Regions from separate parts of the Homo sapiens genome. Here region 1 is linked to region 2. The links come from fine-mapping of genetic effects on gene expression. A gene starts in region 2. The other region holds a variant in brackets. All regions are shown on one strand. Distances are between the middles of the regions. Region 1 has its middle 21 kb from the start of MALRD1-AS1. Region 2 holds the start of MALRD1-AS1 (MALRD1 antisense RNA 1).

Region 1 (5,397 bases), 21 kb before region 2:
AAGTAGCTGGGACTACAGGTGCGTACCAACATGCCCAGCTAATTTTTGTATTTTTAGTAGAGACTGGGTTTCACCATATTGGCCAGGCTGGTCTCGAACTGCTGGCCTCAAGTGATCCACCCACCTCAGCCTCCCAAAGTGCTGGGATAACAGGCATGAGCCACCTTGCCTGGCCAAATCACATGTAAATATTTTTCTAGAAGATCTGAAATAATTTCCTTTGAAATCATCTTTGCTTTTGGATTTCTGAATGTCTGCTATAGTTATTACTCCATGATTTCTGTTATCTGTTGCCTCAATTTTTTATTGACATTTCCCTAGAAAATCATAAATTTTACCTAGGTTTTCAAATTGATTAGCCTTCATTAGTACAAATAACTTTTTAAAGTTTCAAAATCTGGCCAGTAGTTGTAAAGCTTTTCCTTATCTCGTTTCTCTTCGTGATTTTCATATTTTCTTTACTTTATTGAACAAGCTGGTAGCTTATCTCTTTTATTACCGTTGAAGTGCATGGGTCTCATAATCAGTTTTAACATATGCCCGTGTGCTATAATTTGTCAAATTTCCCATTTGATCTTTATTAGTCAGTTTTTAATGTAGTCCATAGGTTTGTTATTCTTTTGCCATTTTTAATTGAATTAAATACATAATTAAATTATCCTTATATCTACTGGCAAAATAAGTAAAGTGACAAATCTTCATGTGCATACATCTTTGGTGACATCTCATAAAAGATAACTCTTTGTCACCAATCCTCAAATATATTACACAATCAAACCGTTCTTTTATCTCTTCTTATTAACAGTTGCATCTGAGACAGATTTTAATTTTCCGTCAGGTAAATAAGTTTCAGTTTGGTTTCTACTTAGGCCATAATGATTTCCATTGCTTTTTGAAAAGAGAACATAATCAATTCAGGTGATGTTAATGTATTGATTTTTTTAGGATTCTTTTAATGATCAATTTTTATAAATATTTCATGGAGCTTGGAAAGATGTTTTTGACAGGGTATAGATTTTTATGTGTTTCTAGACTAGCCTTATTATTTATACCTTATACACTTAAGTTTTTGATGTATTTGATTTGCTAATGACAGGGACAATTATGTTTAAATCTCTCCCTAGTATTGTTTTCTACTCAGAGGATTTTTTTCTTTATATATTTAAATATTATGTGATTTGGTAAAGAGGATTCGTGGCAGTTATGCTATCATATTCTTATCATATTCTTTATAAGCATAATAAGAGCTCCCAGTAACACTTAATGATATTTCCTTGGCTTCAGCTTTTTCAAATATTAATTTTCTTAATCAGAATTTGATTTTGCTGACATTTAAAAAAATATGACTTAGTTCACCACTCTACTTTCAACTTCACTTTACATTAGGTGTATGTTTTGTATACAGTAAGTGTTTTTGTGTTTTTAACCAATAAATATTTTTTGCTTTTACTAAAATATCTATGGTATTTATAAATTTTGTTTCCTTTACTGTCATTTTTAAGAGCTGAAAGCATAAAAATTTAGAAAGCATAAAAATTAGGTCTCACCAAATACAGAATATCAACAAATATATTGAAATTATAAAAAAGAACTAAACTAAAATTATGCAGATGAAAAATACAATAACTGAAATTTTAAAAAGATTACTAGAGGGTCTCAAAAGCAGATTCCAGCATGCAGAAGAAAGAAGCCATACATTTAAAGATCATACAATTCTCTAGTATGAGAAACAGAAAGAAAAATAAATGAAGGAAAATGAACAGACTTCAGAGATCTGTGGGAACTATGAAGTACACCAACAACCACTCATGGGAGGCCCATAAGAAGGAGGAAAAGTAAAATGGCCAGAAAGAACATATGAAGAAATATGGGCAAATATTTCTCAAATTTGATTTCAAAGAACTATACACATGCAAGAATCTCAAGAAAAACTCTAGAAGAGAACAGTATAAATCTTCTTGACCTTGTAATTGGCAAGAGTTTCTTAGATATAACATCTAACACACAACCAAGGGCAAAACATAAAGAAATCATACATCATAAAAATAAAAACAAATTGTACATCAAAGGACACGATTAAGGAAGCAAAAAGACAACCCACAGAATGGCAGAAAGTGTTTGCAAATCATCTGTCTGATAAGGGTCTAGTATCCACAATATATAAAGAACACTTACAACTCAACAATTTAAAAATAAGTCCATGAAAAATGGCCAAAGTATTTGAGTAGACAGTTTGTTTTTGGAGCTCCCAGCTAAACTGAGGTTCTAGTACTAGAGAAGCTAGCAACCCGCCCCTAACACAATACAACGAAGAACTAGATGTGGGTGTTTACTCTGTGCTTTTCATGTGATACTTCTTTTACCTGGCAGGTGACCTGAAGCCTTGTTGTCCAACCTGTGACTAGGGGATTGTCTCTCACATGGGAAACGTGTTTACACTGGCAGATGCCCTTGTGGCTCTTCTGCAATGTGTCAAGTTTATGATTCTCTGACTAAGGCTCTGGGGCTAGGAACCTGACCTTGTGTTCTCTTCTGGTGTCCCAAGCAAAGCTCAACCTGGAGCAACCCTTGGTGCTTTAGGTAGAAAGCGCAAATTTAATACACCACCACAATAGGGAACAAGTTCAAAGGTTTTTACTTACAGATCCTGGTCAAGGAGGGTGCAATGAGTCAGAAGGGTGGTCCTTTATCCTTGTATCATGTAGGCAGGAATGAAGAGTCAGGCAGAAAGAGAATGAGCTCATGAAAGTATATATAAGGAAATAGGGTGTGGATCACTTTAAGTTTTTGGGCAAATGCTTGAATAGTGCATTTAAAGGAAGTGGCAGGAAAGAGGGAATCCCAGTCTCCTAGACAGAAAAGGAGTTCCTGAGTTCTCATCTCTGGCCACCAGCTTGAGTAATCTGGGTGTGGTCTAGACTGGACACTGTGTCAAGGGTAAATTAGTGCTGATTCTGGTGTGAGAAAGTTAAACTTGTATTGAAAATGGATACAGATGCAACAAAAAATTTTAAGAATTCATTACACAGATCTCCAAAGAAGATATACAAATGGCTAACAAGCACATGAAAAGATTCCCAACATTATTAGTCATTAGAGAAATCCAACTTAAAACCACAAAACACCACTTTATCACCACTAGGGTGGCTACAATAAAAAACATGGATATTAACAAATCTTTGTGACAATATGGAGAAACTGGAAACCTCATGCATTGCTGGTAAGAATGTAAATGATGCAATCAGTGTGGAAAATAGTTTGGTGATATCTGAAGAAGTTAAAAAATATAACCCAGTAATCTTACTCCTTGATACCTACAC[A/G]AGATAATTGAAACTACTTGTCACACAAAAACTTATACATGAATGTGCACAGCAGACCTATTCATAATAGCTGAAAAGTGGAAATAATTCATTTTATCAACTGATGAATGTACAAACAAAATATGACATATCTATACCATATAAATATATCCATATATCTATATATTATTCAACAATACATAGTATTAAAGTAGTAGAACACCCTACAACATTGACAATCTTGAAAACATTAGCTAAGTGAAAGAAGCCAGACATAAAAAGTTACATATTATATAAGTTCCCTATTTTTCTGTGAATTCTGCAGAGAAGTAGATAATTTTGTCTATATTAAGTATCTAGAATAGGGAAATCTACAAAGACAGAAAGCGCATTACTGATTGTCAGGTAATGTGGGAAAGGGAGAATTGGGAATAAGGGCTCACAGATATGGAATATGTTTTTGAGGTGACAGAAACATTCTGGGATTAGACTGTGGTAATAGATGCACAAGATGAGAATATATATAAAAATCACTGAATTTTATAATTTATATAGGGGTAATAAGGCTATTGCTCTTTGTAAGTTCTTGGATGATGATGCGTTTAGGCAGGAACCCTGTTAATGGGGGTAAACCTCCTAGGGATAGTAGAATTAGTGGAATTACAGGTGTCAGCCATGCTCATTTGTTTCAGGCGTGAGATAGTGACAGGGTTGTGGTGCTTACACTCAGGTTGAGTGCTAGAAATGCGGCTGTTGTTAAGATAAGGTAAATAATCAGGTTTAGGGTGGTAATATTTGGGTTATAAATTAGTACTGCTGTTATTCAACCTATGTGAGTGATTGAGGAGTAGGCCAGGATTTTACACAGTTGGGTTTCATTAAGTCTCCCTCAACTGCCCACTCTAATGGATAGGATTCTGATAGATAAGGGGATGTTCATGTTTGTTGATGGGAAAATTTGAAACATAATCGAGATAGGGGCTAGTTTTTGTCATATCAGAAGTATACCAGACATTACAGAGATTCCTTGGGTTACCTCTGAGACTCAGAAGTGAAAGGGGGCTATTCCTAGTTTTATTACTAGGGCCACTATTATTAAGAATGAGAATTGATTGATAGTGTTTATAATTTTTCATTGTCTGGAAGCCAGGTTATTGGGAGGGATGTCTATTATAAGAATTATAGATGTGCTTGCTTGTGTAAGGAAATATTTGGTGGCTGCTTCTGTAGAGCAGGGATTTATTTTTTAAATTAAGATTGGAGTAAGGCTAGTTTGTTTATTTCTAGGCCTGTTCAGGTGAGAAATCAGTGTGAGCCTAGCATTGTGATAAGAGTTCCTGTGAAAATAGTAAGAGAAATACTAAGTTGAGCTAAGGGATTAATTAGTACGGGAAGGGTGTAACCTACATTTGTGAGGTATGGGCCCGATAGCTTATTTAGCTGACCTTGCTCTAGGACGTGGTGTAATAGGTAGCACAGAGAATTCTGGATTCTCAGGGGTAGGTTCAATTCCTATAGAACCTAGGAATTATTTCAAATCCTAGAAATAAGAGCATTTTAACCTCTATTGTTTACTCTATCAAAGTAATTCTTTTGTCAGACATATTTCATATGTTTGGTGTGGGATGCTGGAAATTAAGACAGGCATTGAGATATGTCATATGCAAAAATGCTAGTGTAAGTGCTAAGTTTGTTAAGATGGCAGAGCCCAGCAATTGCATAAAACCTAAAACTTTATAATCAGAATTTCAACTCCTCTTCTTAACAATATGCCTATAATTAACCTTCTCCTTATCCCCACTCTTACCGTTATAGCGTTCCTTGCACTCATCAAAAGAAAAAGTTTAGGCTATATACAACCACACAAAGGACCCAACATTGTAGGTCCCTATGGCCTGCTTCAACCATTCATTGATGCAATAAAACTTTTCACCAAAGAACCTTTACCGCCCTCAACATCTACTATTACCCTTTATATTATTGCTCCAAACCTGACCCTTTCTATCGCTCTCCTCTTACAAAGTCCCCTCCCTACGGAGGTTGAATTATGCTCTGAGGTCACCCCAACCACATTTTTTAATGCAGGGATAGTAGGCTA
Region 2 (5,397 bases):
AGTAAACTATGTGAGGTGATAGATATTTTAAATAGTTTCATTGTAGTAATCACTTCACAATGTATACCTATAGTAAAATATAATGTATACCTTAAACATATAAAAGTTTTGTCAACTATACCTAAAAATGACTTAAAATATAAAAAATCTAAAAAAGGAACAAGAAAGGTTTTCCTTGCCATTTTCTCCCTGCTTATAAAAATAAGGGGTAGCCCCAAAAAGGGCCAAGGAAGATGTAATACATTCTCATTTGTTTTTTCTCTTCTAAGTTATCAGGTAATGGCCCTCACTAGTCACCCTAAATTTAAACAGAACATAGAATGCTATCCTCTCTTTTGTTTTTGAAAATAAAATATGAAAGACATTCAATGAATAGTTACTGTAAGCAGCTGACTAATACTCTGTGGGTTAAACTGATATTTCCCAGATTTTTCAGCTCTTTTTGAGTATAAATAGTGACCACAACACCATTTAACAGTGAAGTGATCTTACAAGCAGACTGAAACTGTCCTGAAATGGACAATTCTCACAGCATATTTATAGAGATGGAAACTCCTTTCTATCCCCAATTGAAATAACTCCACTAAAACATTTCTTTTAGTTATGATGTAGAAACATGATCAAGCAACACTGGTTCAGCCTGTGTGTGTGTGTGTGTTTGTATGTGTGTGCATATGTGTGAAAAGATATAGTTCACCCTTGCCACTTACCTCTGTTTTCTCTGGGTTGCTCCAGTTCCCGTAAACTGGATTGACAAAGGCACAGTTACCACTTCCCTCGGTTTTCCTTAAAGCACACAGGGCCATCAAAAATAAAAAACTATTGACATTTACCATAGTACATTTTCAGGTTATTGTTTGTTAGAAACTTTTGAGAGACATGTTGTCTAGCCAGCACACTTATTTTCATGAATGTATTACCATAAGTAAAGTTTGTTTTTTATTTTTTATTTTTTGCAGGACACCAAGGCAACCACATTCAGGAAAGCAAATGTAATTTGAACTCTGAGTGTTTAGATCCAAATAAACTCAGGCAAATAAAAGAAATTGCAAAAGTTAGTCTTAATGTTGATTTCTTAAAATATTACTCAGTGCAAAGTGTCCAACATTAGAAAGAACAATGTAATATGAAGCTGTACTAGTGATAAAGAAAGGCCATCTTGAAGTCCTTTACACTGCACAGTGCCAAACCACTACATCCTGAAGACTGTTTTCCATGACAGTATCTGTCATAAAGATCTGTAGCACATGAGTCATAGTCTTTAACATTTTAATCAGCAAATTTAAATACAACTGTTTTGAAAAGTTCTTTAGGGTAGTGTTTCATGAAACTCAAAAACAGCAAGCCCTTGGTAATATCACATATTGGACTACATGTGCATAATTCACTATAATTAACTGGGCTCCATATGATTATTTTCCTTTTATACTTTACTTAAGAATTAATAGACTTATAGGCCGGGCGTGGTGGCTCACGCCTGTAATCCCAGCACTTCGGGAGGCCGAGGCGGGCGGATCACGAGGTCAGGAGATCGAGACCATCCTGGCTAACACGGTGAAACCCCGTCTCTACTGAAAATACAAAAAAATTAGCCGGGCGTGGTGGCGGGCGCCTGTAGTCCCAGCTACTTGGGAGGCTGAGGCAGGAGAATGGCGTGAACCCGGGAGGCGGAGCTTGCAGTGAGCCGAGATCGCGCCACTGCACTCCAGCCTGGGCCACAGAGCGAGACTCCGTCTCAAAAAAAAAAAAAAAAAAAAAAAAAAAAAAAAAGAATTAATAGACTTATTAGAAGACACGCAGCCCTGGACTACTTGGTGACAACTGATGAAGAAAAAATGTCCATCGTAGGAACAAAAAAAAGTAACCAAGAACTAAATACACACACACACACACACACACGAAAGGATCCTATACACACATGTGTACACACACACACACATAAGAAAGGATCCTATACATGCATGTGTACACACACACACACACACAATGGAGAATGGAAGACCAATTCCAGGATGATTGTTTTAAGAGCTTAATGACACGAGTAACAAATATATAATGTATGATAATTGTATAACACAATGTATAATGTATGTATAATGTATATTTTTTGCCTATTCAGGATACAGTGAAAATTAATGTTTGTCAGTAATATAATTCTAAATCCCAAAATAAAATGTAGCAAGAAGGGGGCTCTTACTGATTTGATTTCTGAAAACAAATTGCCATAGGCATAACTGCCTATTGTCATCTACCAAACCACATGGTCCTTTTCAAAGAAACTGCAGCATCAGTGAGCCTAACAGTCTAATCTAGCTAATTATGTTTGGCTGGCAATACATTGTCCCTGTGGATTCAGTGTCTTTTAAGCTTCCTGATCTCCACTGGCTTAAATATACAATAGATTAAATGTTTCACCCTCACCGCGGGTACATTTTGCTTATTGATGAATAGGGCCATATGCATCTATTTTGTGGGTTATTATTGAAAAAAGTCTGAATTGAGTCAACAAATATCTGTTAATTCCTTAAGCACTAATTGAATGCTTATTAGTTGCTCTGATTAATTTGAGTAAGTTGTGTTTGACTCTTTGCCTTTACTTTATTCAAGACTAGTCTATGTTAAATTCTCGGAGTAGTAATCTCAGTACATAGCATGGTTAGTGCATGAACTGAGCCAGGGATGATCTTGGAGTTGAGATTGGGTAGGGAGTGAAGTGTAGTTTTGAAATGCATCAAAATACCAAAGCAGGAAAAATTGGACATGGAAGTAGGGATGATCAAAACATAATAGAAATTAGGAACTAAGTAAAGATAAGACAGACACTGACACCAAGAGCTCAGAAAAATTAAGAGGCTGAAATCAGGCATGAAATCAGGAAGCAGGAGGAAACCCAAACCACAGGGCTAGACAGGACAGATGGTCAAAGCCTGAGCATACAACCAGGAGCTGAAGGGACCAGCTTGGCCGTCAGTTGCAAGGGTGTGAGGCAGAAGCAACACAAAAGATCTTGATATGAAGCAATTATTTTTGGTCTTAAACTGCTGGGACTCCAGATGACCCAGACCACGGTCAGCAGGCAGAAGCCAGGTAAATTTATATAATTCTCAGCTCTGTTAATTCAATTATTGAAGCTACTTGTCTTCTGAAAGGGTTTTAAGTCTGAAATAATTTTCTATTAAAATGAAAAAACATTTGAAGGTGTCTGGCCTTCAAGATTTGGGTAACTACAAAGAAGGAAGATGATATTTAAGAGTAAGGATGTGGAGTTGTAATAAAAGAAGAAAGGGTTTCAGTGTGAGTATTGGAAGGTGAGGAATGGCAAATCCTTCCTACTTCAACTTTTGTTTTTTAGTAGTCTCAAATTGCTTTTATTTTTCCTAGATTAAAGATATATCTCCCATTCTTGAAAATCCCTGGACTATTAGACTTAAATTTTAATGTCTTTCCTATTTATTTATAAGGTAAACTATTACACCGTCCACAGATTCTTCCATGAAGGAAATTGCTAGTGTCACTCTATACATTTAGTATTTCAAGTTCAATATTATGATTTTCCATTTTCATCAACTATGTCAATTTGACATTCAAACACAGGCAATTTTACTTAAAATGGTGGATCCTTACATGAGGGAAATAAAATGTTTGTTTCATTATAAAGTTTCCTGCCAGTTCTGAAACTCAATGGTGTAATGATGAGTCTTCATCAGGCCAAAAAAAAAAAAATGCAATGTTTGACTTACTGTATTTGTCAATATGCCGGTAGCTCTTAAGCAGTTGATTTTTTTTCCCCCAATGAATAAGTGAGTTGTAAGAATTGAGGTTCTAAAGAATATAACCACCTCTAGGAATAATGATGATAAAGGAACTGACTTAGAAATTTTGAGTAGAGGAAAGGAAGTTGCATGGATCATATAAGTTTTTCTCCCTTATCATGCATTCATATAAATTATTATTAAGTTTATCTTATATCCATTACGTGCAGATACTGTGCGAAGTGGCATTCTGAATGTGTGACAAGAGACCTAGATCAATGCAGAACTAAGATAATTCTGATGGCAGTTTCCAATTTTAATTTAGCGAGCATATTTATACTTCTAATGGAATTCACTTATTAACTGACAACATTGTTTTAGTGTTGATAAAAGCATGGAAGTGTTTATAATAGTCTGAAACTATTACAAATGGGAAAGGAGAAAAAAAGAATAAAACAAAAACCAATCTATGTTACATCCAGTAAACATGACTTCGAGGTGAATATTTTGTATTTTTATTTTTAACAGCTTTATGGAGCTATAAATCACATGCCATACAATTCACAAACTTAAAGTACACAATTCAATGGTTTTCAGTAATGTTACTTTTATTAATTTTTAATTTTTAAAACAGTGGTATATATCACATAAAATTTGCCATTTTAACCATTTCAAGTATACAATTCAATGCCATTAATTCCACTCACAGTGTTGTGCTACCATTACCACTATTTCCAAAATGTTTTTATAACTCTGAACTGAAGCTCCATGGCCAGTGAGCATTAACACCCCATTCCCCTCCAACCAATCCCAGGTAAATTCTGATTTACCTTCTGTCTTTATGAGACTCGAGGTACCTCACCTAAGTGGAATCATACAGTATTTGTCCTTTTGTGTTTGGCTTATTTCACTTAGCATAATGTTTTCAAGATTCATCCATATTGTAGTATGTATCAGAAGTTTAATCATTTTTATTGCTGAATAATATTCCCTTGCATGTATATGTCACATTTTGTTTATTCATTCACCTGTTGATGGAAATTTGGGTAGTTTCCATCTTTTCACTATTGTGAATACTGCTATGGGGAACATTGCTGCATGAATATCTGTTTAAGTCTCTATTTTGATTCTTCGAGGTATATAACTAGGAGTTGAATTGATAGAACACACGGTAACTCTTTTTTAACTTTTGAGGAACTGCCAAACTGTTTTTGATAGTGCTGCACCATCTTACATTCCCACCAACAATGTGTGAGGGTTTCTATTTCTCCTCATCCTCATCAACACTTGTTATTTTCAGTTTTTAAATTATTATTATTATTGCTATCTCAGTGGATGTGAATTGGTATGTAATTGTGGTACTGATTTTCATTTCCCTAATGACTAGTGATGTTGAACATCTTTTTATGTTCAACTATATGTAATCTTCTTTGAAGAAATGACTATTCTAGTCCTTTGCCCATTTTGAAATTGGGTTGTCTTTTTGTTCTTAAGTTGTATGGATTTTTATATATTCTGGATATTAAACTTTTATCAGATACGTACTTTTGAATATTTTCTACCATTTTGTAGATTGTCTTTTCACTTTCTTGATAATGTCTTTTGTTGCACAAAAGTTTTTGATTTTGATAAAGTCCAATTTACT

What was found. PIP is the estimated chance that this variant, and not a neighbour inherited with it, causes the effect.
Region 1: its variant is fine-mapped to the expression of MALRD1-AS1 in whole blood (TOPMed, PIP 0.96).

What each region holds. Positions count from the first base shown.
Region 1 is chr10:19,747,107-19,752,503 of GRCh38, reverse strand. It overlaps the pseudogene MTND1P37, the pseudogene NMTRQ-CTG1-1 and the pseudogene MTND2P16. Among named protein-coding and RNA genes, the nearest start is that of MALRD1-AS1, 21 kb to the right of the region's middle. The variant A/G (reference allele first, on the strand shown) is at 3,321.
Region 2 is chr10:19,726,095-19,731,491 of GRCh38, reverse strand. MALRD1-AS1 (MALRD1 antisense RNA 1) reads left to right here and starts at 2,942. Exons shown (of 5, transcript NR_120646.1): 1 at 2,942-3,087. It overlaps MALRD1 (MAM and LDL receptor class A domain containing 1), which reads right to left. Exons shown (of 40, transcript NM_001142308.3): 39 at 711-786.